4 linked regions of the Homo sapiens genome follow. The protein of the gene in region 1 purifies or fractionates together with the protein of each later gene. This does not show direct contact. Each region holds a gene or a part of one and is shown in the gene's direction. Other genes may lie near its edges. The genes, in order: KDM3B, IDH3A, DEPDC1 and PPP4R1.

Region 1 (7,656 bases):
TTTATTTTTAAAGGGTAACTTTAGGAGTGAAACATGAGCTACCCATGCTAGTTCCTTGCAGTCATGCAGGTATCAAGGCTCCTGGCCAAATCCTGCCTGTGAAGCAACAGCAGCACCTCAGGGCTGTGTCTGTTCTTTTTCTCTATTGTAGGGAGTAAGTTGAAGTCAATACTTACTGGTTAGTAGGAAGATAAAAGAAAAAAGAAAAGGAGTTTTATTTTTTAACTCTAAAATACCCTGAAGTAGTCTCTGTAGCAGAGACAGAGGCAAGCCTAGGTGGCCTGCTTGATTCGTACGTCTCTATGCTACTCCTCAAGGAAATCCTGAATGTTAACTCCTCTTGTGTATTTAAAGAATAGTTTAATTAAAACTCTCTCCCCTCTTTATAAGAGAATAGCCCTTTTGTTTATCGGGAATCACTTTTTTTTTAATTGTAGTAAAATACACATAATGTAAAACTTACGACTTTAAAATGTACAATTCTGTGGCATTTAGTACATTTACAGTGTTGCGAAACTATGAAGACTATCTAGATCCAGAAATTTCATCACCCCAAAAGGAAAACTCCATATCCATTAAGTGGTGATGGAATAATTTTTATTTCCAGTGTTTTAGAGTGAATATTAAGGTATATCATCCTCTACTACTTGAAAGTAATCTATGGTTAGCAAGTCAAGTACTAGGATCTGGGTTTTATTAAATTAATAAATATAAGTTTGGGCTCATACCTACCTATGGGTCTCTTCTCTCTCTCTCTCTCTCTCTGTGTGTGTGTGTGTGTGTGTGTGTGTGTGTCCCTTTCTCTTGTCTGTATCTGGGTACATTAATATATAGGAAAGTCCTTCCTTTTTTTTGTTTTTGTGAGGGAATCTTGCTCTGTTGCCAGGCTGGAGTGCAGTGGCACGATCTGGGCTCACTGCAACCTCCGCCTCCTGGGTTCAAGCAATTCTCCTGCCTCAGCCTTCCGAGTAGCTGGGACTACAGGCACGTGCCACCATGCCCGGCTCATTTTTTGTATTTTTAGTAGAGACAGGGTTTCACCGTGTTGGCCAGGATGGTCTTGACCTCCAGACCTCGTGATCCGCCCATGTCAGCCTCCCAAAGTACTGGGATTACAGGCATGAGCCACCGCGCCAGGCCCCATTCTTCTTTATACAGTCATTCACAAGCAGAAGTTAACATTTTGAAGGTAAAAGAAGGAAAGGGGAGTGTTCTGTTATTTCATTCTTCAGTTATGCTGAAGGCTTTTTTTGGGATATTGTCAGTATATACATTTATCCTCTTTGGATTCTTATTAGATTCTAATTATAACAAAGGTCTTGGTAAATAGCTTGCTTTCTTTAATTTAGCATCTTTACGTCTAACGTTAATTGAAGTAGATATTCAACTTGTAGGTTGACTTGAACCCATAAATAGATGCCGAAATCCAAAAGGGTCCATGTTGTGGACTTTCAGATTAATAAGGAAAACACTTTTCTTTAACGTGCAGTAGGCTTGTCCTAGGATTAAAGCCACTTTTTGTAAAATGGGCAATTTTACAGTAGCCTAAATAAATCAAAACTTTAACAATAGCTCCCAAGGTCATTGAGATATATTAATATTACAGGGGTCACTGTAAAAGCTGATGTCTATTCAGGAACCCTTTTCTCCAGTTCCTTAGAGGAGCTCTTCACTTCCAAATAGATACCAAAAAGCCTACAAGGCCTTCTAGCACTGTGACGACCAATTGGATAACAACCAAGGGAATTGCAGGATGAATGACATCCTGCTATCTCTGGTTCACCTTGCTAAAGATGCCCTCAGTGTAGTCTGTGGCAGATTTCTTCCCCACTGCTGGTGAACTCCAGTTACAAGAGCAGATCCATGGAATTGTAAAAGAGAAAAGTTGATGGACCCCCAAGAAATGTTGATCTGGTGATAGTGAGGTCCAAGAAAGAGATCATTAGATTGTCATGAGAAGCCAGCATCACTAATTCAGGCTATCTTCCTTTCAGAATTCAAGAAATTCTATTCTGGCCTCTTCTGGATTTGGAGCACCTCTCCCTAGTTCATCGCAACCTTTGACTTTTGGAAGTGGAAGGAGCCAGTCCAATGGTGTTCTAGCCACAGAGAACAAACCTTTGGGCTTCTCTTTTGGCTGTAGCTCTGCACAAGAGGCACAGAAAGACACTGATCTCTCCAAAAACTTGTTTTTTCAATGCATGTCCCAAACTTTACCTACCAGTAACTACTTCACTACTGTTTCAGAGAGTTTGGCTGATGATTCTTCTAGTCGGGACTCATTCAAACAAAGCCTTGAGAGCCTGAGCTCAGGCCTGTGTAAAGGCAGATCCGTTCTTGGAACAGACACTAAGCCAGGCTCTAAGGCTGGCAGCTCTGTGGACCGGAAAGTGCCTGCAGAGTCCATGCCCACCCTCACTCCAGCCTTCCCACGGAGCCTCCTAAATGCCCGTACCCCAGAGAATCATGAAAATCTATTTTTACAGCCCCCCAAATTGTCCCGAGAAGAGCCTTCTAATCCTTTCCTGGCATTTGTGGAGAAAGTTGAACACAGCCCTTTCAGTAGTTTTGCATCTCAGGCATCAGGTAGCTCCTCTTCTGCTACCACTGTCACCTCCAAGGTGGCACCCAGCTGGCCCGAGTCTCACTCCTCTGCAGATTCGGCATCTTTAGCAAAGAAGAAACCCCTCTTCATTACAACTGACTCCTCCAAGCTAGTATCTGGTGTTCTGGGCTCAGCTCTTACCAGTGGGGGCCCAAGCCTCTCTGCCATGGGGAATGGCCGCTCCAGCTCGCCCACCAGCAGCCTCACTCAGCCCATTGAGATGCCAACTCTCTCCTCTAGCCCCACAGAGGAGAGGCCAACTGTGGGGCCTGGGCAGCAGGACAATCCCCTCCTCAAAACCTTTAGTAACGTCTTTGGCAGGCACTCAGGCGGCTTTCTGTCCTCCCCGGCAGATTTTTCACAGGAGAACAAAGCTCCTTTTGAAGCTGTGAAAAGGTTCTCACTGGATGAACGAAGCTTGGCTTGCAGACAAGACTCGGACTCCAGCACCAACAGTGACCTGTCAGATTTGAGTGACTCTGAGGAGCAGCTGCAGGCTAAGACAGGCCTGAAGGGAATTCCAGAGCACCTGATGGGGAAGCTGGGCCCCAATGGGGAGCGCAGTGCTGAGCTGTTGCTGGGCAAAAGCAAAGGGAAGCAGGCCCCCAAGGGCCGGCCTCGGACTGCCCCCCTGAAAGGTGATCCTGCTGGGGCTATATTTGGGCTTTGCTCTGGCACTGGGCTCAAATGCCTGTCGTGTTCTTGTGCAGCAGAGGCACTCACTTTGATGGAGAGTTCTGTAATCTCATAGAATTACAGAGCCAAGAGGACCTGGCAGAGGCCCCTCGTCAGGCCTGGTTCAGGGCAGGATTGCATCTAAACCGGCACTGTAGGAGGAGTATCTGTCCCAAATAATGATAATCCCCCAAAGGAGGACTCTTGATCTTCCTTGGCGGTCAGTTATTTTTGGTCAGGAACTATTTCTTTGCATTTGTCTCATCCCTTTTTACTTCACTTTGGCCCATCCTCTTTACTTCAGAGGGGTTACTGGGAACTGGTATCCATTCCCACATAGCAGACATTTGTAGACTTGATGAAGCAGAGAGAATCACCCCTCAGTTTGCTCCTCTCTGAAACCTACATAAGGATTTTAACAGCTCTATCAAAATCCATTAACTTGTGTGGTGTGAGGTTATGGTCCAGAAGCGGGTAAAACAAAGTCTCATGGTAAAAGCAGCTGTTCTCAATAGGAATTGCTATGTTGTGGGAGCTCAAGAGGTCCTGATGAACAGAATAGCCATATCGTGAGAGACTAGAGGCAGGTGATGGCTACATTCTGGCTTCTTATGTTTTTCACATCCATATTCAAAGTTGTTTTGCCATAGTGGGGCACTTCCCACAAGTTCTGCATGGTTCTTAGCTCCCAATGGAAGCTTCTTTGCTCCTTGCTTTCCCTTCCTGTCAAGGATGGACATAATGGGTACATGCCCAAGCAGGGAAAGGAGTAGCAACCCAGGTCAGAACAAATGTCTGTCCCCAAAAGAATCATGCTATTGGTTCCTGTTTACACCTCATGACAAACTTTTCTTCTCTCCCCCTTGCCACAGTTGGCCAGTCAGTGCTGAAAGATGTAAGCAAAGTGAAGAAGCTGAAGCAATCTGGAGAGCCCTTCCTGCAGGATGGGTCATGCATCAATGTGGCACCTCATCTGCACAAGTGTCGTGAATGCCGCCTGGAGCGGTACCGGAAGTTTAAGGAACAGGAGCAAGATGATTCTACTGTAGCCTGCCGTTTCTTTCACTTCCGGAGGTACCCAAACTCCTGTTTTCCTCCTTTGCTAGTTTTCATTAGTGACACATAACTTCCACTCTTTCTCTGAGTCTATAAACATGTTTCATCATCTTGGTCTTTGCTTTCCTCAACTCCTTTGCTCTCAGCGTCTGTGAAGAGGCTCTGGCATAGTAGTCACTTAGTTGTTTGGATTGTAAAATGACATGTGATTTTGTCCTTGGAGAATTAAAATTGAGCAGTGTTAGCTGCAGCTCTGTGCTATTCCCTGAGTAATTCCTAACTTGGGTTGGTTCTATTTGAAACCACTATTATAAGCAGAAGGACTGCATTTCATATTATGGATCTACCTGACTGCTTATTCCTCCTCAGTGCTAGAGTAACTTGAGTCATGTTAAAAAGACGGGGAGGTAAGATTTGGAGATAATGTGAAGCATCTTTGAAATAGATATAACTGATGGAAATGTGGGAATATCGTCTGCTTTTACCAAACAATATCTCTTTAGTTACTTTTCTTCTGCTTGATAAACTTAGAAGGGGAGTTTCTTCTGAGTGACCTTTCAAGAATCTTTAATTTTTAAAGTAAATCCAAATGGTTTACCAATATGGTGTGGATTCACTTAGCAAATGTTTATTGAGCATTTAATGTGTGCCAACCCTTGTTCTGGCCATTGAATATTCAGCAGTGAACAACAAAAAAATCAAATTTCAGCCCTCAGAAGGTTTGGGGAGGCAGACAGTAAATAAGGAAAAAAGGCCAAGCATGATTACATGCCTTTAACTCCAGCACTTTGGGAGGCCGAAGCAGAAGGATCACTTGAGACCAGCATGGGCAACATAGTGAGACCTAGTCTCTACAGAAAATTTTAAAAATTAGCCGAGTGTGGTGGCACACACCTGTAATTCCAGCTACTCAGGAGGCTGAGGTGGGAGGATCACTTGAGCCCAGGAGGTCAAAGCTGCATTGAGCCTTGATCGTACCACTGCACTCCAGCCTTAGAAGCAAAGCGAGGCTCTCTCTAAAAGAAAAAGAAAAAATAATAAGTGATATGTCAGCTGATAATAACTATGAGAAAAATAAGGAAAGAGGATTGAAGTGTGAGGATGCTAGAGAGGCTACAGTTTTAAACAGGATGATCTGAGAAAGTGAGAGTTGAGGAACAGCCTGCAGGAGGTGAAAGAATACACCACACTGTGACAGGTATTCCAGACAGGTGCAAGCATCCCAAAGCTGGAGTATTTCTGGTGTGTCCATAAAGTTAGGTTGCTAAAATAGAATAAACAAAGAAGGAAAAGGAGTTGAGGTGAATGAGTTAATGATGGGTCCACATTTTAAAGGGCTATTCCAAAGGCCTTGGTTTTTACTCTGATGAGAAGTCATTGGAGGCCTTGAGCTGATGCGTGACACTGATTAATGTTTTAAAAGGCCACTTTGGCCACCTTTTTGAGAATAAGCTATGTAGAGGCAAGGGCAGAAGCAGAGAAGTTAGGAGGCTGTTGGAATTATCCAAGTGAGAAATGATGGGGCTTGGACCACGGAGATAGTGATGGACATGATGAGAAGTAGTTGAAGATAGAGTAGACATAATTTTCTGATGAATTAGATGTGAAGTATGAAAGAAAGGACTTAAGGATGATTCTATGTCTGGTTCTAGATATGTCTTTTGGCCTAAAAACAGGAAGAATGAGATTGCCATTTACTGATAAAGAGATTCTTTAGGGAAAAGCAGGTTTGGGGAGGAAAAGGGGGAGTTTTAACTTGGCCGTGTTAAATTTGAGATGCTTGTTAGATTTTCAAAGGAAAATACTGAGAAGGCAGCTGGGGATACAGCTCTAGAGTTAAGGGAAGGGGTCCTACCTGGAGATATAAATTTGGATATCACCAGGTATTTAAAGCTGTCAGTCTAAGTGAGATCAGAGCATAGATAAAGAAGAATAGCAGTCCAGGGACCAAACTCTGGTACTCTCCAATGTTTAGAGGTGAGAAAGATGGAAGCAACTAGTAAAGGAGACTGAGAAAGAACAGCTAGTGAAGTAGCAGGAAAACTAGGCAGTGAGGTATCCCAGAAGACAACTAAAGAAAGTATTTCCAGGAAGGAATAATGAACTGTGTCAAATGTTGCTGACTTGAATGGGGGCGGTAGCTCACGCTTGTAATCCCAGGATCTTGGGAGGCTAAGGTTGAAGGATCACTTGAGGCCAGCAGTTTGAGACCACCCTGAACGATGTAGTGAGACCCTGTCTCTACAAAAAATAATAGTAATAATAATAATTTTTTTTTTTGAGACGGAGTCTTGCCCTGTTGCCCAGGCTGGAGTGCAATGGCGTGGTCTTGGCTCACTGCAACCTCCATCTCCTGGGTTCAAGCGATTCTCCTGCCTCAGTCTCCTGAGTAGCTGGGATTATAGGTGCGCGCCACCATGCTCGGCTAATTTTTTGTATTTTTGGTAGAGACAGGGTTTCACCACATTGGCCAGGCTGGTCTTGAACTCCTAACCTGAGGTGATCCGCTTGCCTCAGCCTCCCAAAGTGCAGGGCTTATGGGTGTGAGCCACTGCACCCTGCACAAATCAATTTTTAATAAAAAAGTAAAAATGTTGCTGACAGGTCATGTTACATATGGACTAGAAGTGACTGATTTAGCAAGGTAGAATTACCTTATCAAAATAGTTTTGCTAGATTGGTAGGGGAATTGCCTGATTGTAGGGAAGAAAATAAAAGGGAAAGGAACCTATGGCAATGAGTATAGACAACTCTTCTTTTTTTTTAGATGGAGTCTTGCTGCCCAGGCTGGAGTGCAGTGGCGCAATCTTGGCTCACTGCAATCTCCGCCTCCCGGGTTCACGCCATTCTCCTGCCTCAGCCTCCCGAGTAGCTGGGACTACAGGTGCCCGCCACCACACCCAGCTAATTTTTTATATTTTTAGTAGAGACAGGGTTTCACCGTGTTAGCCAGGATGGTCTTGATCTCCTGACCTCGTGATCCGCCCGCCTCAGCCTCCCAAAGTGCTGGGATTACAGGCGTGAGCCACTGCGCCCGGCCAAGTATAGACAACTCTTTAGAGGAACTTTGCTCAAGCAGATAAATGGAGGGAGGGTATGGCTTGAGAGGATTTTTGTGGTAGAAATTGGAGCAAATTTATGTGCTGGCAGCAGTGATCTGATACAGAAGAAAATAGATGATGTTGAAAAGAGAGGAGAGATTTAGTGGAGAAATGCCTTTGGGTTGGGGAAAAGTGATAGGATGTAGTAGGAGATACTGGCCTTTGCTGGTTCAGAGCAGCGGGAACTCATGGAATACGTGGGCCAAGTTGCAGGGAAGT
Region 2 (7,656 bases), on another chromosome or scaffold:
TGCACTCCCTGTGTGACCTTTGGCAGAGTCATTTGACTTCTGGGCCAGCTTCTCACTTTAGGGATTGGAGCAGAAGGTGGCTCAGAGGCTGACCCCAGGATGGTGGAGGTGCTGAGCTGGATGCCGGTTTCAATCAGGACAGTTCCTCTGTTGAGTTTCCATTTCAGGTTGTGGCCAGGCATGGTGGCTCATGCCTGTAATTCTAGCACTTTGGGAGGCCAAAGTGGGCGGATCACTTGAGGTCGGGAGTTCAAGACCAGCCTGGCCAACATGGCGAAACCCCATCTCTACTAAAAATACAAAAATTTGCTGGGCGTGGTGGCGCACGCCTGTAATCCCAGCTACTCGGGAGGCTGAGGCAGGAGAGTCACTTGAACCCAGGAGGTGGAGGCTGCGGTGAGAGGAGATCATGCTCCTACCTGGGTAACAGCAAGACTCTGTCTCAAAAAAAAAAAAGATTTTTTTTTTAAAACCCATCTCAGAACCCATGTACAACACTATTTACATGTTTTTAAGTTAAAAAGGAAATGAGTTGTGGATTAAGATGGCCCACGACCTGAAGTCCAAAGTTCAGGGTTTTGGTCCAGGCTTCATGAACCTGGCCTCAGTTTCCTCATCTGAAAAGTGCCAATAATGCCTATCTCTACAGGTTTTATATAAATAAAATGATGTGAGATATATATATATATATGCATATGAGTATTCTATAAAGTAGAAGTCCTGCCATCTCAGCCTTCCATGAAGCTGGGACTACTGGTGTGTGCCACCATACCTGGCTAACATTTAAAATTTTTTTTGTAGAGGTAGGGTCTCACTCTGTTGTCTAGGCTGATTGGTCAGGTCTTCTGTCACAGAGACATAAGCTAGTTTTGTGTGAATGTCTTTTCCCTCTTTTTTGGGCTGGGAGAGGAGAAAGGACTCATGTCAATTTTTTTTTTTTTTTTTTTTTTTTTTGAGACAGAGTTTTGCTCCTGTTGCCCAGGCTGGAGTGGAATGGTGAGATCTTGGCTCACTGCAACCTCCACCTCCTGGGTTCAAGCGATTCTCCTGCCTGAGCCTCCCAAGTAGCTGGGATTACAGGCACCCACCATCACACCCAGCTGATTTTTGTATTTTTATTAGAGACAGGGTTTCACCATGTTGGCCAGGCTGGTCTTGAACCCTGACCTCAGGTGATCCACCGGCCTCAGCCTCCCAAAGTGCTGGGATTACAAGCGTGAGGCACTGCGCCCGGCCTTTTTTTTTTTTTTTTTTTTGAGATGGAGTTTTGCTCTTGTCACCCAGGCTAGAGTGCAATGGCGCGATCTTGGCTCACCGCAACCTCTGCCTCCTGGGTTCAAGTGATTCTCCTCCCTCAGCCTCCTGAATAGCTGGGATTACAGGCATGTGCCACCACGCCTGGCTAATTTTGTATTTTTAGTAGAGACAGGGTTTCTCCATGTTAGTCAGGCTGGTCTTGAACTCCTGACCTCAGGTGATTTGCCTGCCTCAGCCTCCCAAAGTGCTGGGATTACAGGCGTGAGCCACCGCATCCGGCCTCATGTCACTTTTATGCTCTGCTTGTCACGAAGTAACCTTTAAATGGTGCTTTGGAAAATTTTATTTTACTTAAAGTTCTGGGTCATTGTGATGACTTAGGTGCAGTACTGCTTTATTCTAAGATCATGCAAGAGAGATGACAAACATGGAAAAGACTGGTCCTTAAAGAAGATCATTGCAAGTATTAAGGCTACTTGTTGGCTTGGAAACTCTTCAGATAGAGATGTGACTGAGGCTGGACTCAGTTTTGTTTGATTGTTGTTTTGTTTTTTTTTAAATTATTGAATACCTTCTATGAGCCAGGGACTGTTCTAGACACTAGATACAACAGTGAACAAAACACAAATCCTTACACTCCTGGGTTTACATTGCTGCCCCCAGCATATGCAGGTAGGATGGGTTTACATTTTAAAATCAGTTGTTTGAGTCGGGTCTTTTTCATTCTTTCTTTCTTTTTTTCTTTTTTTTGTCCATTACCTAGGCTGGAGTGCAGTGGCATAATCATAGCTCACAGAAGCCTCAAGCTCCTGGGCTCAAGCAGTCCTGAGCTCAAGCCGACTTAGCCTCCCATGTAGCTGAGACCATTGGTGTGCACCACCATACCTGGCTAATTTTGTAGAGACAGGGTCTCACTTTGTTGCACAGCCTGGTTGGTTGGGTCTTCTGTCACAAGGACATGAGTTTTGTGTGAATGTCTTTTCCTTCTTTTTTGTTCAGGGAGAGGAGAAAGGACACATGTCAATTTTCTTGTCACAAAGTAGCCTTTAAATGGCCTCCCTTCCAATAGCCCACTCGCTGGTGGATGAATCATGCCCTAGGATTAACATTTTGGCCAATGGTTTTGGCATTCTTTTGGATTTGGCCCAGTCTTATTTTCAATGCAGAGTCATGACTATAGATACCAGAAGATTAGAGAATAAAATTCATTCATACCTTTCTTGGCTGTTGGTTGTTACCAATAAATATTTCAGCAAAGGTTCAGACCCCAGAAAAAAACATCAAGATAGGATATAACAAATGTGTCTTTGCTCATGTATCTAGCAGGAGAAAAAGTTACTTTTTAAAAAATTTAATGCAGCCGGGTGTGGTGGCTCATGCCTGTAATCCCAGCACTTTGGGTGTCCAAGGCAGGTGGATCACCTGAGGTCAGGAGTTTGAGACCAGCCGGGCCAACATGGAGAAACCCTGTCTCTACTAAAAATACAACAAGATTAGCCGGGCATGGTGGTGCATCCCTGTAATCCCAGCTACTTTCAGGAGGCTGAGGCAAACCCAGGAGGTGGTGGTTGCAGTGAGCCGAGATTGCACCATTGCACTCCAGCCTGGGCAACAAGAGTGAAACTCTGTCTCAAAAAAAAAAAAATTTAATGCATTTTAATACCTTTGGTCTATGTACCCAGTTTCTTTTTTTATATTGTTTATAATAATGTAGTATGACTTTGTACCAGTTCTCAAGGACTAAGTTATTAAAGTTTATAATAAACCTTTAAAATTTATATTTCTGGCATATGATGTTAATTGGAGAGAGAAAAAAAAAAAAAAACACGTACCAGTGGTAATATCTTGGTGTGGTGGGATTACTGGGTAACTTTTATTTTATATTTTGTATCTTTTCCTAGTCCCAGCAAACTGACAGTAATGACCACATTACCTATATTATCAGAAGAAGCAGTAATTTATTTAAAATCTTTATTCTGTATGGCATGGGCATCAGATGGTATTAAATAAACTTTCTTAGATTTTACTATAAAGTGTAATTTCTTAATATTCACAGAATAGATATAATGTATAATTGAAGGAGCACTGGACCAGGAGTCAGAAGACCTGTATGTGGGTTTCCATTTTGCCAATTATTCGCTGTGTGACCTTAGGCAAATGCTTTTCTTTGGGACCAGCATCTCCGCTTATGAAATAAGCAAGTTGCCAGGTGTCGTGGTGCACACCTGTAATCCCACCTACTCAGGAGGCTGAGGCAAGAGGGTCACTTGAGCCCAGGAGTTGGAGACTGCAGTGAGTTATGATTGTGCCTTTGAATAGTCACTGCACTCCATCCTGGGCAACCTAGGGAGACCCCATCTCAAAAAGCCTAAAACAACAACAAGAAATAAGTGAGTTGTGCTCTGGATTTCATGAGGAACATCCTGGCTCTAAAATTAATGGTAATTTTCTTAGAATATATGTTACCCCTAAATTGACCGAATGGTCAAGAATGTTGGCACAAAATGATCCACTCATCTGAGAAGAATCTGTATGTTGAGCTGAAAAAGTAGTTTTATTCTACCTTCAACATCTTTTATTTGACAACTTATATTCGTTAAATTGACTTTGAAAATATACAGTACTCAATCTAAAGTAAAAATCTGAGTATTTAGGCTTTCAAATCTGAGATAGCTTGCCACATTGAGCTAATACATGAGATTTGTATTCCTGGGAAGCTACTGAATATATCTGTGCCAAGTTGCAGCATTACCATCCATCAGGACTTCCTCGCTCTTGTTTACTGTATGTGGTTTAATTCTGTGTGTGATATTTCTCTGTTGATATTAATATAGGTCTCTCGGCTGCTGGGGGCATTCCACAACCCAAAACAGGTGACCAGAGGTTTTACTGGTGGTGTGAGTATAATTATGTCTTTTATTTTTTCCTTTTAGAAGTTTCTCAAGAAAGATGCTCTAACATATTTATTATATAGCATTTTATCTCCATTCATTTAGAATTTGGGAAAATTGGCCATATTTATAATGTATGTTGAAATTACTGGCTGACATGCACAAATCTGTTAGGTTACTTGCGCATTTGAAAGAATTATCTTACAGCTGGCTATGTAAGTTTGTCACATTAATATCTTGAGGGAGCCTTGTTAAAAATAGAAAGTACCCTTGAGCCTGTTATTTTATTTCACAATCTCATTTTGGTGAGACAGCTTTTTTCAAAACTAGTACAAGTTGAGAGAAAATTGTTGAGAAGCTTCAAAACCTGCTTTGCATTTTTATTTTATGGGCTTCCCTAAACCCAGTAGATTGAGTGCCAATTAGGAATGCCTCGAACATCTATAAGCCTTGTAGGCTTATACTTGCCTTATATAGGCTTTGTAGACTATCACAGTAGTAGATCATCTATTGTTCATTAAATCTGCTGCTTTTAGAATTCCCAGCATCAGAATTCTGTGCTTTAAAAGCTGATACCACATTTTTGGAACATTCTAAGACTGTGGGTCAGTGACTTCCTATTTGTTTTGATCCCCGCCCCGCCTTTTATGGAATCTGATTTGGATTTCATAATTCCTATACTCCCATATAACATCTATGCCGTGAAAGATTTATAAGACCATAGTACATTTTTTCCTCCATTTACTTTCTGTATTGTGGAAGAAAAGCAGATTTTCTGGTGACTGGATGACATTTATTATTACATGTTGGGAGAACAGGAAGAAGTAGCCAAAGCGTTCTTTTGGCTCTGCTTATGCCAAAAATGCAGGATGGGGCTTGCACTTCAAGCTCAAGGATAGCCATGCTAGCATTTCAAACGCATTCTGAAAGCTAATAAGATGATCATTGCTCTCTGCTATTATTTAATTTTCAGGCTATTTATTTGAAAAAAAAATTAGCTTGATGGAGGAGGTTATTTTTGAAGAAATAAGAGGATGTATTAATTTTTTTAAAGACTTCTTCAACCCGAGAAAACTGGTATGAGCCTTAGCCCTGGCTAAGACTGAGGTGGGAGATTTGCTTAAGGCCAGGAGTTCGAGGCTGCAGTGAGCTGTGATCACACCTGTGAGTAGCCACTGTGCTCCTGCCTGGCAATGTAGTGAGTCCTCATCTCTAAAAAATAAAAATTGAAAATTAGAAAAATGAAAAAAATAAAAATGTTTCTTCAGTTGTACAGAAACTAATCAGAAATAATTAGTCCACGTATCTGGGCAGACATCATTGGAAGGCAAAGGACCAAGGAAACTTGAATTAGTGACTTTTTAAAAATGCAGTTCAAGCAACTAGAACTGAAAAAAAGCCAAGCCCCTAGGTGGGGTAAAGTCCCAAGATAATAAAATATGTGGTTCCCAAATGGAAAAAGAGGTGCTGATCTTCTCCCTTACATATTTTTATTTCTGCATTTGAAATGCTGGCTTCGTTTTGCCTGAAGCCTTAGAATAAATCATTGCTGTTACATTATAAAAACAATAATTGTCATTCTAAGTGTGACTCAGGCTTTGCAGGTATGATGACATATACTATTCTTTTTGGTTGCAGATCAACTTTGCCAAGCTTATGTAGATTACTCTTAGATTTAAGCAGACAGTTTTATAGAGGAACTAAGAAAAAAATGGAAGCTCTCTTGATAAAAAGTCTGATTTTCCCTGAGTACCAAAACAGACCTCAGTAATATTTTGGAAATGTGTCTGAAAATGTTTTGCAAGACTGAAGAAGTTGCATGAGAAGCTTTCCAGGATCACAATGGAAAGGAAAGGAAAACACTTGCCTTCATGAGAAACCGTCTAAATTTTAGTGAGAGAACATTGTTAATTTTTTGTTGTTGTTGTCTTTGGTTTAAAAGATTTGAATTAATTGGTCTCTTTGCAGCTTGTCTGAAAAGAAATATCAATTAGGAAATCTACTTGGTAGTTTAATTTATTTTCGTTTTATGTAAAGAGTATCATTTGGTTCTTTTTAAAACCTCTGAACTCAGGTAAAGAGTAGGATTGCAGAGTCTCTCCTCTGTTGATTCCTGCCTCCCCTTTGATGACCCCCGGGGAGGTATGTTTGTTTTCTTAACAGCATTTGAATCTTCCTGAGACATCTCATAAAGTGGATTTCTCTGTCAAAATATTCTTTTTTAAGCCTTCAAAAACAAAAATTCTTACTGTCTTCTTTGATGATTTCTTATGTTCAGGTTCAGACAGTAACTTTAATTCCAGGAGATGGTATTGGCCCAGAAATTTCAGCTGCAGTTATGAAGATTTTTGATGCTGCCAAAGTAAGTGGGCTTAAAAAATACATTTAATGATGACTCACTGAAAAGTTTTCTTAGCCAGTTGGATTCTGTGAACTTTTAGGATGCATTGTACCCATTTCTATGAAATTTAGTCAGGTCTGTTGTTAATCTCCACCGATTGTCACTTTAACAGTGTGTGTCTCAGTGTTTGCTACTGCCATTATTTCTTTCTTTCTTTTTTTTTTTTTTTTAAATTTAGAGATGAGGTCTCGCTCTATTCCCAGGCTGGTCTTGAACTCTGGGGCTCAAGCGATCCTCCCACCTTCACCTCCCAAAGTGCTTGGATTATAGGCGTGAGCCACCGCACCTGGCTGGCTGCTCCTGTTGTTGATAGTTTAAACTCCTGCATTGGCATCAGTTATATGTAAAGTAATCAAAGTAGTACTGCAGTATTTGTGGATCTTTAAGTCCTGCTTGGGTTTAAGATCTTTTAAGCCCTGCCAAATCACCCACCTTTTTGCAAAAAATAAAATAAAATAAGACTAGAATTGCTGTTTCCAAAATCTATACAGGCGCTTTTGAAATAATCTCTTTAAAATAAAATTTCTGATGTGTTATCAAGAATGGAATGTTATTACTTCTAACAGCTGAGCCTTTGATACAGGTAGATAATTTAAAAATTCTGTAAGTGGATTCAGCTGTAAGCTGCTTGTGAACAGCACCGTGTCTGTCTGAGCTCGTGTCCTAGGACATGTTCAGTGTGCTAGCTGTATACACATGAAGGATGTAGGTAGAGAGAAAGGGATGCTTGTTTATACCTCCAACTGGTACATTCATAGGTTATGCAATACATACATACATATATATATATATATTTTTTTTTTTTTTTTTTTTTTTTTTTTTTGAGACAGAGTTTTGCTCTTGTTGCCCAGGCTGAAGTGCGATGGAGCAATCTCGGCTCACTGCAACCTCTGCCTCCCGGGTTCAAGCGATTCTCCTGTCTCAGCCTCCCAAGTAGCTGGGATTACAGGCACATGCCACCACGCCTGGCTAATTTTTTTATTTTTAGTAGAGACAGGGTTTCATCATATTGGTCAGGCTGGTCTCGAACTCCTGACCTCAGGTGATCTGCCCACCTTGGCCTCTGCACCGGGCCTGGCCTATATATATATTTTAAACAATGTAATA
Region 3 (7,656 bases), on another chromosome or scaffold:
CTTTACTTGTTATTCGATCCCCCAGAGTAATTCTGTGAGATGTAGGAATTAGTAATCAGTATACCATCCCAATTTTTCCAACAGAGAAAGCCAAAGCTTAGAGTATCTTCTTTTAGTGCAAATGAGCTAGAGCTCAAACCTAGATTCTCTATAAATTCTATATTTTTAATATTTTTAATTCCTGTAAACATGTATTTTCTGTCTTAGAGAACTTTCTAATGATTATCAAATCTTTTATTCCACATACTATTTCTTATGTCCTTAGAAAAATATCTATTTTGCTCTGTTGTTAAGAGTGTGTGTGTGTGTGTGTGTGTGTGTGAATTGTTTTCTTTAATTCTTTTTCAGTGTGTGCTCACATTTGTGTGTCCATACAAAAGTTTGGAAACAGAGAAGTAAGAAATATTATTTGGACTTGGGAAGAGAAACATTTTAACTTGAAAGATAGTATAATGGCTCTAAAACCTAGATGCATACCACAGTCACTAAAGAGACTCTCCAGAGATTCTGTAGGTCAGGAATCTTTAAAAAATATATATATATATATATGCCTCCAGAAGATTACTATAGTGAAGATTCTCAGGTTAGTGTTTGGAAAACACTCAGTGAACCAGAAGCAAACATTTCTAGGTCAGTAAATTTCTGGCCCCGCCTTCATGGATTATGGTCTCCATAGAGGACTTTGTATTTTTAATAGGCACATTGGATGATTCTGTGATATAATCTATGAACCACACTTTAAATGTTGTTGTAGCTTTAAAAGTCCTGGGCCTTGTGCTTATTTTACACTGCTCTAACTTCTAATTCAAACTTTGCTACCAGAGTCTTTTTCATCTTGGGCAAGGTACTCTCAGCCTCAGTTTTCTTATCTATAAAATGAGATCAGATCTTATTTTTGAGGAAAACACAAATGAGTAGGTATGATTATTTCAATAGTTGTGTCAAGCTTAAGAAACAACAATGTAAAGATATTATTTAAATTCATTAAGGCTATGCTTCATGTCAGACAAAATATATTCATGAACATGTAAATTTACAAAAAGACAATTTGAAGGAATTATTTGTGTTGTCCAAATATTCTTTCCTTTACAAAATGAATTACAATAAAATCTTATTAAACTAAGCTTCCCTAATGCTTTTAAAATGATATTAAAATTTTGCTTTATGTATGATTTTTCAGGTATACAAATGTTAAACAAAATACTAGCAATTGACTGCTTCCAGTGGAAAGATAATGAGGAAGAATGAAATACACCCTTTAAATTTTTGAACTGTGGCAGAATTTGTTGTTAAACCTAGCTCCTTCATGAAATACAGATTTTATACTTTTTATGTTTAAAAATTGTATTTAAATTAAAATATACTTTACCTTTTTCTCTTGCCTTCTACTTCTTAGGGCCAAGAAGCAATGATATGAATAATCCAACTTATGTTGGATTTGAACGAGATGTATTCAGAACAATCGCAGATTATTTTCTAGATCTCCCTGAACCTCTACTTACTTTTGAATATTACGAATTATTTGTAAACATTTTGGGTATGTATAGATTTTACTGATTTTAGTTCATTTTGTTAAAGTTTTCAACTTTCTTATAATTTAGAAGATCTAAAACCATAGGTAAATATAAAGGTGGCAGCCTACAAATTATTTTAAAATTCAGTGAAATAAGGTTCCGAGGTTACTCATACTTCCGCCCAGCCAACTACCAATTCGGGACTTCCCTCAACCCCCTACCAGACTCAATAATTCACTACAATGATTCACAGAACTCAGAAAAGCACTTTAACTATGACTATTAGTTTATTATAAAAGCTAGACCTCAAGAATAGCCAAATGGAAGAGTTACACAGAGCACGGTATGAGGGTGGGGGTGGCACAGAGTTTCTCTACCCTTTCTGGTCATGCCGTGATCCCAGCACATCCATGTGTTCACTAACCTAGAAAACTCCCTCAGCCTGCATGTTTTAGAGTTTTAATTGAAGTTTAATTACCAAGGCATGACTGACCAAATCATTGGTCACTGTTGTCAATTGAACTCAATCTCTAGCCCCTTTCTCCTCCCACAAGGTTGTAGTTGGTGATGAAAATTCAAACCATGGCCGGCCCTCAGTTACCTTAGCATGAACTCAGATACGCTGAAATAGGCTTGTTATGAGTAACTAAAGACTTCTATCATTCAGGAAATTTCAAGGATTTTAGGAGCTCCATACCAGGTACCAAGGACAAAGATCAAATATATGTATTTTATTATACCACAATTATCTTATATTTATGAGGTTTCTAGTACTTGCAGACTGAGAACAGATTTTTTAAATGTATTCTGGCTCAATCCATTTAATTAGGCTGTTGAAATAATTTTTTAAAGTTATATTACAAATGGGAAAACCACTCATCTGTCTTGCACGTTTGTAACCGAATGTTGCATGTGTCCTATTTAAGTGGCTTCTGAATTAAGCAACTACTGTGTATACTATACTAACAATATATACTATAGTAATGCTTTATTTTTTAACTTTACTATTGTTTTTGTTTTATTTTTGTCCACTGTCATACAGTTGCATCTTAATTTTTGTTTCATTTCCTGGTAGTTGTTTGTGGCTACATCACAGTTTCAGATAGATCCAGTGGGATACATAAAATTCAAGATGATCCACAGTCTTCAAAATTCCTTCACTTAAACAATTTGAATTCCTTCAAATCAACTGAGTGCCTTCTTCTCAGTCTGCTTCATAGAGAAAAAAACAAAGAAGAATCAGATTCTACTGAGAGACTACAGATAAGCAATCCAGGATTTCAAGAAAGATGTGCTAAGAAAATGCAGCTAGTTAATTTAAGAAACAGAAGAGTGAGTGCTAATGACATAATGGGAGGAAGTTGTCATAATTTAATAGGGTTAAGTAATATGCATGATCTATCCTCTAACAGCAAACCAAGGTGCTGTTCTTTGGAAGGAATTGTAGATGTGCCAGGGAATTCAAGTAAAGAGGCATCCAGTGTCTTTCATCAATCTTTTCCGAACATAGAAGGACAAAATAATAAACTGTTTTTAGAGTCTAAGCCCAAACAGGAATTCCTGTTGAATCTTCATTCAGAGGAAAATATTCAAAAGCCATTCAGTGCTGGTTTTAAGAGAACCTCTACTTTGACTGTTCAAGACCAAGAGGAGTTGTGTAATGGGAAATGCAAGTCAAAACAGCTTTGTAGGTCTCAGAGTTTGCTTTTAAGAAGTAGTACAAGAAGGAATAGTTATATCAATACACCAGTGGCTGAAATTATCATGAAACCAAATGTTGGACAAGGCAGCACAAGTGTGCAAACAGCTATGGAAAGTGAACTCGGAGAGTCTAGTGCCACAATCAATAAAAGACTCTGCAAAAGTACAATAGAACTTTCAGAAAATTCTTTACTTCCAGCTTCTTCTATGTTGACTGGCACACAAAGTAAGGCTGTTGCTTTCAATGCATGCAATATTAACTTTGAGTGTTTACTAACTCTGTGTTTTGCTTACCTGGCTTTTCTTCCTTGAAGTTGCTTAATTTTTTTTCCTCCAAGAGGAATTATTTAAAAAGACTTTTGTCTGTGACATAACCAAGATTTATTCTGTTTACCTAAGGAACTTATTTTCTTTTTTGCAATTTCATTTATTCTGAGTCACTTTATTTGTAATAAGTGAAGAATTTTAATACTTAGAAATAAGTTGTAAAGAAAATAATGAGAATCTTACCATGCTTTAGAGGAACGTAATTTCTAGAAATAGTTAAAAGATGAAATACTAAGATATTATTTTACCTTCTTTATATAGCTGTATATACTGGTAGTATGAAAGCAACTAGTGTCATTGATGATTTTTGGGGGGGTATTTTTGTATTCTAGGCTTGCTGCAACCTCATTTAGAGAGGGTTGCCATCGATGCTCTACAGTTATGTTGTTTGTTACTTCCCCCACCAAATCGTAGAAAGCTTCAACTTTTAATGCGTATGATTTCCCGAATGAGTCAAAATGTTGATATGCCCAAACTTCATGATGCAATGGGTACGAGGTCACTGGTAAGTTGATTTCTTATAGAAAGAATAAGTCTGATTCATAAACCAAAATAACAAAACCAAACTACGTAAAAGTACTACTCAAGTGATGTCTTAGTCTTAAAGTGCTAGATTCTTAGGTTGGAAAGGCTCTTTAACCTTTCCTAGCAGCAGAATTTTGGTGTATTAATCTTTTGTGCACACTCTGTTATACTTTCACATGCTGATGTTAATCCTGGCTAAGGACTTTGCCTGCTCATTCATCCTGAATCACTTCATAGTGATTGACCAGTCAGACCACGTTATGTTGCCTTGTGCCAATTCTGTTTGGTGGATAAGGAAGAAGAAATGTAGGTACTGTTGAAAGCCTAAGGAGACTATAACTGTGGACGCAGAGAACTAATGGAACTTAATACAGTAAGTCAGTGTTTCAGAGAATATAGTAATGGAAAAGTAGGTCATCGTGGACAAGAAGTTGGGAAGCACTATTGCCAAACAGCCTTAGGCTCCTTGTGAAAATGAGGATAAGGGCATTTATATGCAGACAATTGATTGGAAATGAACTCTTGAAATAGTATCTTTAATCTCTTTCTTTTTTTTTAAGTCACCACTTCCTCAAAATGCAACTTCAATTTACAAGAGGTTCTTATAGCAAGGAATCCGGAGTTATGCTTTCTTCCACGCGTTATTAAAGATAGTTCTTTAACAATGACAGACCTAATATAAAGAAGAAGAATTATTCTTGAGTAATTATAGCACTATTAAAAAGCTAGGAAGTTTATAGAGGAAGATGTTTTCAGAGACATGACTGGGAAGGTGATAATTTTGGTTTTGCACTTTTAAGATTTGAAGTCATAGGACCTCCAAGAGAAATTGAAATTTGTCCAACAGAATGTTGGAAATATGAGCCAGGTGAAGAAAGATCAGGGGAGAATGCAAATTGATTTGGTCATTTACATAGGGATAGTACTTGAAGCTATGAGAGTAGATGAGCTCTACAAGGCTAAGAGTGTGAAGAAAGAGCAAAAGGCTGAGGTCTGAGCCATGGAAGGAGACAGGAAACCCCGAGTGATGTGTAGGAATAAAACTAAAAATGTATCAATTCTATAAATATTCTGATCATCTACTATGTGTGAAATATTTAAAACAATTCTGATTTCTAAGTATTTTAGAATGAGGGGTGTGTGTGTGTGTGTGTGTGTGTGTGTGTGGTACAGTTAGAGGGTTGCATAGATATAAGTGAAAGTAACGAGAGTAATAAGTGAGAGTAATCAATTTTATCCCAGGATTTGAAGATCCCATAAGATGGAATTGAAAAATGTGTGTTTTAAATTGCTGTCTAAAGACTGACAGAATAAACATTTTTAAAAACTATTTTCCAGCATTTCAAAAGCTAAATGGCATCAGCTTTGCAACCACTTATGAATAGAAGTGTTCTATATGTTACACATTCTCCTGGTTTGTGTTTTTCTGTGGGATTCATTTAATGTAATTAGTTATTGTTCTCTGACAATCTTTAAGCTTAAGCAACATATATATGTGGTATTAATAGAACCTATGGTGTTTACTGATAAAATTGTGACAAAATTGTAGAAAAACCAAAGCCTTTTATAATTCTTGGGAATTACATTAAGGATATACTTTTTTTTTTTTTTTCTGGTTACACAGGATCACGCTCTGTTTCCCAGGCTAGAGTACAGTGGTGTGATCATAGCTCACTGCACCCTGGAATTCCTGGGCTCAAAAAATCCTTCTGCCTCACTCTCCCAAGTAGCTGGAACCACAGTCATGCACCATCATGCCTGGCTAGTTTTTTATTTCTTCATAGGTATAGGGTTTCACTATGTTGCCTAGGCTGGCTTCGAACTCCTTGCCTCAAGTGAGCCTCTCACCTCAGCCTCCCAAAGTGCTTAGATTACAGGCATGAACCACCATGCTCAGCCATGGAAAAACTTTAAAAAGGATTTATGTATAATCAAATTCTTACATTTCTAACTGTATAAATCGTTGTCCTCATTTTTAAACTGAGGGCTGCTTACCACTTTTTCCCAATACTTCACATAATGCTACCTGGAAATTACCGATATTCTAGTTTGTATGCAACCTTAGCTTTTTAAATTCACATCTTTTAATATTTTTCTAGATGATACATACCTTTTCTCGATGTGTGTTATGCTGTGCTGAAGAAGTGGATCTTGATGAGCTTCTTGCTGGAAGATTAGTTTCTTTCTTAATGGATCATCATCAGGAAATTCTTCAAGTACCCTCTTACTTACAGACTGCAGTGGAAAAACATCTTGACTACTTAAAAAAGGGACATGTAAGTATTGTGAGTCTTAAAATTCTCTGCAATAGTCAGTTGCAAGTGGCAAACTCATCTCAAAATAGCTTAATCAAAAAGGGAGACTTTATCAGCTCCCATAAACAACCTCTAAAAGTCAGGAATGTAGACAGAATCTGGGACTCAAATAGCTATATGACTCTTTCCATCCCTCCATCTCTTATTTCTGTGTTGATCCTGTGTTTGACAATGGCTCCTTCACATGATGAGGAATGTGGCTAGTTGAAGTTCATGAGTTAGAGCCTTACATTTGCAATTCAAAGGAAAAAGAGCCATTCCTCCGTCTCCAATTTAAAAGCTCTGGATGTAGACTCTTAGCATAGTTGAGGTTAAATATGCATCGTTTAGGTTGTTAAGAGTGAGTAGGATGGAGATAGGGCCTTACTCTGATTGGTTCTACACAAAGGAGAATTTATTCTTCACAAAAGGTGAAGGTAGAGGGGTAAAATGGGAAGGAACTATTAAAAGAAGGAGAGAAGGAATACTGAGCAGCCAAAATAACAGACATCTACTGTATTCTGTCTTTGGCTGCCCAACACATGTTTATGTTTTTCCCATACATACCATTCTAATATTGCCCTGGCTTATAATTATAACTATCTCCTAGAATTTCTTTCTCTTATCAGAAGATGTTAGAAGCTCTGCCTATGTCCCTAGGCCTCAAAAAAAAAAAAAATACATGAAAACTAAAAATATTTCATTTCAGTAAATATGCTGATCATCTACTACCTGCACTGTCAGAACATTAAAGTCTTAAGATGAATTAGAATAACACTTAGATTGTTATTTTATAGTTAAAAGAATAAAATCCATAGTTAATGGTAATAATTATAATACCTGTCTTTATTTAATGCTTATTGTGGGCTGAGCCCTTTCTATACATTTTCTTATGTAATTTCCATTTTAATGATGAAGAAACAGACCAAGAAAAGTTAAATACATTGTTGAATGCTACAAACCAAGTAGATTATGGAGCTGGGGTTTAGAACCTACTGACTTACATACCTCTACTGCATAATACATAGTTTTTTTAATGGCTGAATGTTTGATTGGTGGTAAATTAATAGGTGCTAGATCCCATCAAAAGAATACTTTATCATATAAGAACATGACCAGAATTAACAGAGTTATATCATTTTGATCACTACAGATTGAAAATCCTGGAGATGGACTATTTGCTCCTTTGCCAACTTACTCATACTGTAAGCAGATTAGTGCTCAGGAGTTTGATGAGCAAAAAGTTTCTACCTCTCAAGCTGCAATTGCAGAACTTTTAGAAAATATTATTAAAA
Region 4 (7,656 bases), on another chromosome or scaffold:
TTTTCGATGCATAATTTAGGCATTTAAAGTTAGTATCTGTTATTCTGATTTAATTTTTTGAGGTTAGTAACATTCATATATAAATTAGCCTTTGTATATTGCCTAATGGTTAAAGTACTGCGTACTTTGTGGTTAGCTTACTAATGTGTTTTCATTTCTGCAGTGGAAAGTTCGACGAACTCTAGCATTCTCCATCCACGAGCTTGCAGTTATTCTTGGAGATCAATTGACAGCTGCAGATCTGGTTCCAATTTTTAATGGATTTTTAAAAGACCTCGATGAAGTCAGGATAGGTGTTCTTAAACACTTGCATGATTTTCTGAAGGTAACTTTTAAATTTTTTTGCATAAAAACACAACAAAATTCTGCCGTAATCTAAATCTTTATCTTCTGCTATCACCAAGAGAGGTTTCTTTGTGTTTCTATGTAAGAAAACACAGCCATAAGTTGATGTTAAGATGCAACTTAAAAAAGAAATGGTCCCATAATTATACTCTCACTTTTAAAACAGTATTAGATGATAGTTTACAGACATTTGTATCTTTTTCTTTTTCAAAATTATTGAGTGAAATGTATGTTAAAAAAAATCATTAGCTGCAGTCATCCCTCAGTACATGCAGGAGGATTGGTTCCAGGTCCCCCATGCACACCCAAATCCATGGAGTACTCCTGTGGAACCTGCGTATAGGAAAAGTCTGCCCTCCGTGTACTCCAGTTTCACATCCGGGAATACTGTATTTTCAATCTGGTTGGGACAAACAATTCAAGTATAAGTGGACCCATGCAGTTCAAACCCCTGTTGTTGAAAGTCAACTGTGTATTAAGTTTGGAGGCTTTGTGTGGTATTTCAGGCGTCTTGAGAATTTACGTTTAGCCCTCACTACTTTGATAGAGGAGCTGTGGTCTCCAAAGTGAATAGCCCTGATTTTTTACAAATTGTTTACTCCTGGAGTACTGTTGTTGTTTTTAGACTTTAGCCTTGAAATTGACTCTGGTAATTCTAAGGCTTGAGTGATAGAAGTAATTGTAGTCCTCCCTTTTAAAAAACACTGAGGCTGGGCACAGTGGCTCACGCCTGTAATCCCAGCACTTTGGGAGGCTGAGGCGGGCAGATCACTTGAGGTCAGGAGGTTGAGACCAGCCTGGCCAACATGGTGAAACCTTGTCTTTACTAAAATACAAAAAATTAGCTGGGCGTGGTGGTAGGCACCTGTAGTCTCAGCCACTCAGGAGACTGAGGCAGGAGAATCGCTTGAGCCCAGGAGGTGGAGGTTGCAGTGAGCCAAGATCATGCCACTGCACTCCAGCTGGGGGACAGAGCAAGACTCCATCTCAAAAAAGTAAAAAACAAAAACATTGAGACCATTTTATATTTTATGTAGATCATATTCGGAGTCTCGCTCTGTCACAAGGCTGGAGTGCAGTGGCAGGATCTTGGCTCACTGCAACCTCCGCCTCCCAGGTTCAAGCAATTCTCCTGCCTCAGCCTCCTGAGTAGCTGGGACTACAGGTGCGTGCCACTAAGCCCGGCCGATTTTGTGTTTTTTTGTTTGTTTGTTTGTTTGTTTGTTTTAGTAGAGATGGGGTTTCACCGTGTTGGCCAGGATGGTCTTGATCTCCTGATCTTGTGATCCGCCCACCTTGGCCTCCCAAAGTGCTGGGATTACAGGCGTGAGCCACCATGCCTGGCCTAAAATTTTTCTGATTGTCCCAGTATTGTCCTTTATAGTTTTTCTCCGCTCAATTTTGAATCCCTTAAAGTGCATATTAAATTTAAATGTTATCTTTCTTTAGTCCTCTTAAATCTAGGTGTCACTGGCATTTTTGAGGAGTCTAAACCAGTTGTTTTACAGAATTACCCTCAATTTGAATTTACACAATTTGATTCTGAGTAAGCGGGGTTTTTTTGCAGACATGTTAACCTGTGTAGGTTGTCATGTATTTTTCTGAATGTGCCACATCAGGGCTAATGTGGTGTTGGCTCTTCCCATCATTGGTGACGAGAAGGCTGACAACTCCATTGTAAAATGACCTTTTACCTTTTGTGGTTAATAGAGAATTGGTGAGGTGATACTTTAGAACTCTGAATATCTTTTTCTCTAGAGTCCTTCACCAGTGCTCTCATATCCAGGCATCTATACATGGTTCTTACCTGAATCAGTTAACTGTGTTGGTTGTGAAAGAGTGATTTTCTATTTTCATAATTCTTTCTGTTTTTTTTTAATTAATTAACTTACTTATTTTGAGACAGGGTCTCACTCTGTTGCCCAGGCTGGAGTGTAATGATGCAATCATGGCTCACTGCAGCCTCCACCTCTCCCAGCTCAGATGATCCTCCCACTTCTGCCTCCTGAGTAGCTGGGGCCACAGGCGCACCACCACGCCCAACTGAGTTTTGTATTTTTTGTAGGGATAGGGTTTCACTATGTTGCCCACACTGGTCTTGAACTCCTGGGCTCAAGTGATCTGCCCCGCCTTAGCCTCCCAAAGTTCTGGGATTACAGATGTGAGCCACTATGCTGGGCCATTCCTTCTGTTTTTATTAAGTAACATTCCCATGTAAAAATAACCTGTGCCTTCTCTCCTTCCCCGGTTTCGAAAGTTATTTTAGTATTAGTGGGGACTCTAGGATTTTAAAAATTCAACATAATGGAATCCATTTCTGTCATTTGTTTTGAGCATCAAATTTGACTAGTGGAGACCCCTTAAAGCTGCCTCTTGTGTCCTTTGATTTGTCCTTTGATTTTTAAGTGCATCAATACTTTCAGTTTCAACTTTCCCTTTCCCTGTCCCAGCCTGGAGTCAGCTATTTCTCCAAGGAACTGTGGTCCTTTTTAGTGGAGAATGGTCCTTAGAAACTGAGATCCAGGCACTGGAAGTGCTCATTGCTCCTGGCCTGTCATTTCTTTTAGGTCTTTTCAGGAGATAGTAGCTAGGAGGTGTAGATAGTAGCTAGGAGGTGTGATGCTTTTTTTTTTAATTAAATTACTAACTTCATATTGTTATGAACTGCTTCCAATTCAATACCGTTTTCTCTCTTCACTTTATATATTTTTTTCTTTTTACTCCTGGTAAAAAGTCTGTTCTTAGTAACATTAATGTGTAATATTTAGTTGTGGCTGGGCACAGTGGCTCACACCTGTAATCCCAGCACTTTGGGAGGCCAAGGCGAGCGGATCACCTGAGGTCAGGAGATCGAGACCATCCTGGCTAACACGGTGAATCCCCGTCTCTACTAAAGATACAAAAAATTAGCCGGGCGTGGTGGCATGCGCCTGTAGTCCCAGCTACTCGGGAGGCTGAGGCAGGAGAATCGCTTGAACCTGGGAGGTGGAGGTTGCAGTGAGCCGAGATCCCGCCACTGCACTCCAGCCTGGACCACAGAGTGAGACACTGTCTCAAAAAAAAAAAAAAAAAATTAGTTGTTTGCTGAGTTCCACAACATAAATGAAATAGTTTCAGAATTACTCCACCAATAATAATTCCCACATCAAATCAACTACATAATATTCAGGACTTCCTAGCACATTCTGTCCTTAGAACGTCCCTTGAAGATGTATGGTCAAAGTAGTCAGTTCACACTTTGGCTTTTTTCCCTGTGTGATTGTTTTCCATCTGATGCACAGTTAGGTTGGTTTGCTTCCGTTTATAAACTTACCTTTAAATATTTATAGAGCAGCTATTGGGATACATTTATTTTTTTTCTCTCAACAAATACTGAATGCCTACTCTGTGCTGTCACAGCGTCACACGCAGGGCTTACACACGTGGTTAAGAGCATAATTACTGCCTTAAGCGGGGCCATGGCAACAAGGATGTCATATGAATAAAGGGGGCAAGCCCTGTAATCAGGCTGTGCCCGGGGTACTGTGGGGTTTAGCGTGGCTCATTGATAGGCACAAGGAACAAAGATTTCCAGACAAGATGGTGATTCCTGAAGGCAAATGGAATTATTCAGGGAAAAATAAACTTAATACCAAATTTTAAAACACTTAAATACAGCTACTACATTTCCTCTTCAGAAGAATTAACCATATTGCTTACAGTCTGTTTTTAAGCACTCTAGTAAAAGAAATACTGTCTGTACCTTGTCCTGGTAAATATTTTTATTTTGTTACTTTAGCTTCTTCATATTGACAAAAGAAGAGAATATCTTTATCAACTTCAGGAGTTTTTGGTGACAGATAATAGTAGAAATTGGCGGTTTCGAGCTGAACTGGCTGAGTAAGTTCTAACAGTTTATTAGATTATGTTTTGGAGGGGTATATATTTACTTCATTTTTACATTTTCTCAGTTTCTTCATTACTTTGTGTAGATCCAAGTTTCTATGTGGTATTCTAGCCCTTTAACGCTTCCTGTAATATGTGTCTTACTGTCAGTGAATTTCCTCAGCTTTTTTATTTTTTCTTGAAAATGTCTTTAGTTCATCTTTATATTATTTTTATCATGGTGAAATACACATAGCCAAATTTGCTGTTGATGACATTTAGTCCATTCACAGTGTTGTGGAACCATTCCCTCTATCTAGTTCTGAAATGTTAACCTCCCGAAAAGAAAAACCCATGCCCAATAAGCATCTACTATCTATGGATTTGCCTGTTGCGGACATTTCATGCAAGTGGAGTCATATAACACATGGCCTTTTGTGCTTGGTTTCTTCATTTAACAATGTTTTCAGTTGTCCTCCATATTGTATCCTCTAGCTGAACCTGCCTTCCTTTTTGTGGTTGAGTAATATTCCATTGTATGGATATACCACATTCGTTTAGGGCATTCATCTGTTGAGGAACATTTGGGTTGGGGGTGTGGTCTTTTGTGAATAGTGCTGCTAGGAACGTTTATGTACAAGATTTAATATTTGAAATCTGTTTTCAGTTCTTTTGAGGTGAATTTGCAAGGCCATATGGTAATTCTGTGTTTAATTTCTTGAGGAACTGCCAAAACTTTTCCACAACAGCTATACCATTTTACATTCCCATCAGCAATGTATGGGAGTTCCAGTTTCTCTGTCTCCTCACTAACACCTATTTTTCTACTAAATTTTAAAAATATTTCTAAATTGGCCAAATAATAATTGTGCATATTTGTGAGGTATGTAATGATGTTGCAATACGTATCGGATAGTGGTCAGATAAGGGCAGTTAGCATATCCATCACTCGCTTATCATTTACAGCTGTTCTGATGGGCTTGGAACAGCACTTCATTGTGGTATGATTTGCATTTCCCTAATGACTAATGATGTTGAACACTTTTCCATAAGCCTGTCAACCATTTGTGTATATTTTGTGGAGAAATGTCTATCCAAGTCTGTTGCACATTTTTAAATTGGATTATCTTAAGTTGTGTTGTTGAGTTGTAAGAGTTCTTTATATATTCTGGATTATAGACCTCACCTGCATTTTCAAATGATGTCTTTGCTGAGTATGGAATGTGGGGCTGACAGTTTGTCTTTCAGTATATTAAAGATGCCACTCCATTGAGTTCTGGCTTGCCCACTTCTGACTCAAAACACACGCCTCCTCTTCTGCCATATAGTGCCGGGGTGTGAGTCCATCTAGTCAGGGTCAAGCTGGGTTTGCGTTTTGTGATTGCTGTGGTTACGTTCAGTGTACTTGGGGCTTCAGTTTTTCTCGCTGTGGGCTGCCACTACCATTGTCGTTTGCTGAGGGTGGCAGCTGGGGTACCAGTGGTCTTCTAGTGTGAGTATTCCACCCGGCGTTTAGCGGTACCTGCACCCCTGCGTAATGGGTGGGACCTCCTATCTGTGCTTGGTCTCGGGCAGGACTTCCTACAGCTCCTCCTGGAATAAGGAGCATTAGTTCTCCTCTCCCACAGTTGCAGTATTTTTGCTGGGCCCACAGGGTGGACAGGCTTTGGGGCCCCTCCACCAGCAGGTTAAGCCTTTTGCTTTGCACGAGAAAAGGGCCCAGCAGAGTGCTTGATGATTCATGGCTGTCAGTCAGTTGCTTCTGCCTGCTATGAGACATCTCTCCTGTTTTTCCTGACCATCTTTCTTGAAGCACCCATGGGAGGCAGGTACCCTGTGGAAGTCAGAAGGTTGTCTGGGAATGTGAGCTCCCTGTGTCGGGCACATCTGGCTTTGTTTGAGCCACCCCATGCTCCTGCCAGCCACCATCTGGCCCTGGGCAGCTGACTGCAATTCGAGCTGATTTCTCCCTGCCCTGTTAGGTGCTAGCAGGTGTCCTGTCCATCCGGGCTCTGCTGAGGGGCAGTTCTCTTTCCCATCTTGGGAAGTTAGGTTGTTTGTGTGCTTTGCAACCCCAGCTCTCTGATGGGCTCAAGAAAAGATCTTGAAGTTTATGTAGCTTTTTCTACTGTAGGGTCAGTGACGTTCTTTGCAGTTTTCTGTATTCTAAGCAGAAACTGGTCCTATTTGGAATTTTTATTTTGAATTTTGTCAGAAAATAAGTGTGTCTCTTTGAGGATGCATATTTGTATACACAGGTGCATTTATCATTGCTGCATAATCTATATTCATGTTACAGTTGACTTTCTGCTTATTAGAAATGTAAATCCTCTTGAACATAAAATCTGAAAGGCAAAAGTCTCACATCCAAGGTATTTCTTCAAGGCCATCATTGAAGCTTTCAGGTTAGCTTGGTAGATGTCATGAAAGTCTCAGGGCCCCTCAGATGTGATGGGAAGGTTGCTGGAGGACACCCTCCCTCTGTTATCCCTAGCAAATCCCTTCCAGGAAGGCTCCTCAGAGCCTCGACAGGTACACAGTGGACTCCCTCCCTCTGCGGGGACTTCTTACTGAGAAACTTGATTGTAGATGGAAGCTTCTCAGCACATTCCAAACTGTGACCATGGATCAGTGTGGGCCATGTTCCAGTTGAACATACTAGGAAGTGCTTTGCTCTGTCTCAGTCCCCATGGATGCAGAACTCTACAGCTTTTGTTTTCCTTACACTCTAAGGAACTTGAATAGCATGTAAGTGCATTTCCAGATACACAGAGACTGGAGGTAACTGTACAGGAGAGGTCTGCTTAATCACTCCTCTTTGCGTATGTTTGAGACAGGTGCTCAGTAATCCAGTATTACAGATGATTTAAATGGGTAACCTATTTTCATTTGTCTCGCTGATTTTTAAACATTGTCTTTTTGTAATTCCTTTTTGTAGACAGCTGATTTTACTTCTAGAGTTATATAGTCCCAGAGATGTTTATGACTATTTACGTCCCATTGCTCTGAATCTGTGTGCAGACAAAGTTTCTTCTGTTCGTTGGATTTCCTACAAGTTGGTATGTATTGAACTTTTAAAATTTTAGATCAGCAAACTCTAAGATCCTAGAATGGAAGCTGTTCCTCATTTCTCCATGCTCACCCTCCCAGGTCAGCGAGATGGTGAAGAAGCTGCACGCGGCAACACCACCAACGTTCGGAGTGGACCTCATCAATGAGCTTGTGGAGAACTTTGGCAGATGTCCCAAGTGGTCTGGTCGGCAAGCCTTTGTCTTTGTCTGCCAGGTAAGCGAGGCCCTGGGCTTACCTGTTTGTGAGTTTTTCTCCTAGAAGAATGTCTTCTTTAACTTCCTACCTCTCTCTCACCCTCTTCCTTACTCTTAAGGAACAGAACCTTATAGTAGCCTGGCTGTTTATAGGATCATCTGCCCCCATTGTTGGGCATCT

What was found.
Region 2: the proteins of KDM3B (region 1) and IDH3A purify together in Homo sapiens (affinity purification with mass spectrometry; one large-scale study listed by BioGRID and IntAct). This does not show direct contact.
Region 3: the proteins of KDM3B (region 1) and DEPDC1 purify together in Homo sapiens (affinity purification with mass spectrometry; one large-scale study listed by BioGRID and IntAct). This does not show direct contact.
Region 4: the proteins of KDM3B (region 1) and PPP4R1 fractionate together in Homo sapiens (co-fractionation; one large-scale study listed by BioGRID). This does not show direct contact.

Annotation. Positions count from the first base shown.
Region 1 is NC_000005.10:138,389,019-138,396,674, forward strand, and holds part of KDM3B (lysine-specific demethylase 3B), read left to right. Parts: intron 1-1,994; coding exon 1,995-3,243; intron 3,244-4,152; coding exon 4,153-4,354; intron 4,355-7,656. UniProt on the Homo sapiens protein: Histone demethylase that specifically demethylates 'Lys-9' of histone H3, thereby playing a central role in histone code. Demethylation of Lys residue generates formaldehyde and succinate. May have tumor suppressor activity.
Region 2 is NC_000015.10:78,151,122-78,158,777, forward strand, and holds part of IDH3A (isocitrate dehydrogenase [NAD] subunit alpha, mitochondrial precursor), read left to right. Parts: intron 1-4,091; coding exon 4,092-4,154; intron 4,155-5,786; exon of another isoform or gene 5,787-6,041; intron 6,042-6,426; coding exon 6,427-6,510; intron 6,511-7,656. UniProt on the Homo sapiens protein: Catalytic subunit of the enzyme which catalyzes the decarboxylation of isocitrate (ICT) into alpha-ketoglutarate.
Region 3 is NC_000001.11:68,477,831-68,485,486, reverse strand, and holds part of DEPDC1 (DEP domain-containing protein 1A), read left to right. Parts: intron 1-1,396; coding exon 1,397-1,537; intron 1,538-1,782; exon of another isoform or gene 1,783-2,589; coding exon 2,590-3,441; intron 3,442-3,874; coding exon 3,875-4,047; intron 4,048-6,166; coding exon 6,167-6,343; exon of another isoform or gene 6,344-6,358; intron 6,359-7,514; coding exon 7,515-7,656. UniProt on the Homo sapiens protein: May be involved in transcriptional regulation as a transcriptional corepressor.
Region 4 is NC_000018.10:9,549,890-9,557,545, reverse strand, and holds part of PPP4R1 (serine/threonine-protein phosphatase 4 regulatory subunit 1), read left to right. Parts: intron 1-163; coding exon 164-325; intron 326-4,123; coding exon 4,124-4,224; intron 4,225-7,147; coding exon 7,148-7,268; intron 7,269-7,359; coding exon 7,360-7,494; intron 7,495-7,656. UniProt on the Homo sapiens protein: Regulatory subunit of serine/threonine-protein phosphatase 4. May play a role in regulation of cell division in renal glomeruli. The PPP4C-PPP4R1 PP4 complex may play a role in dephosphorylation and regulation of HDAC3.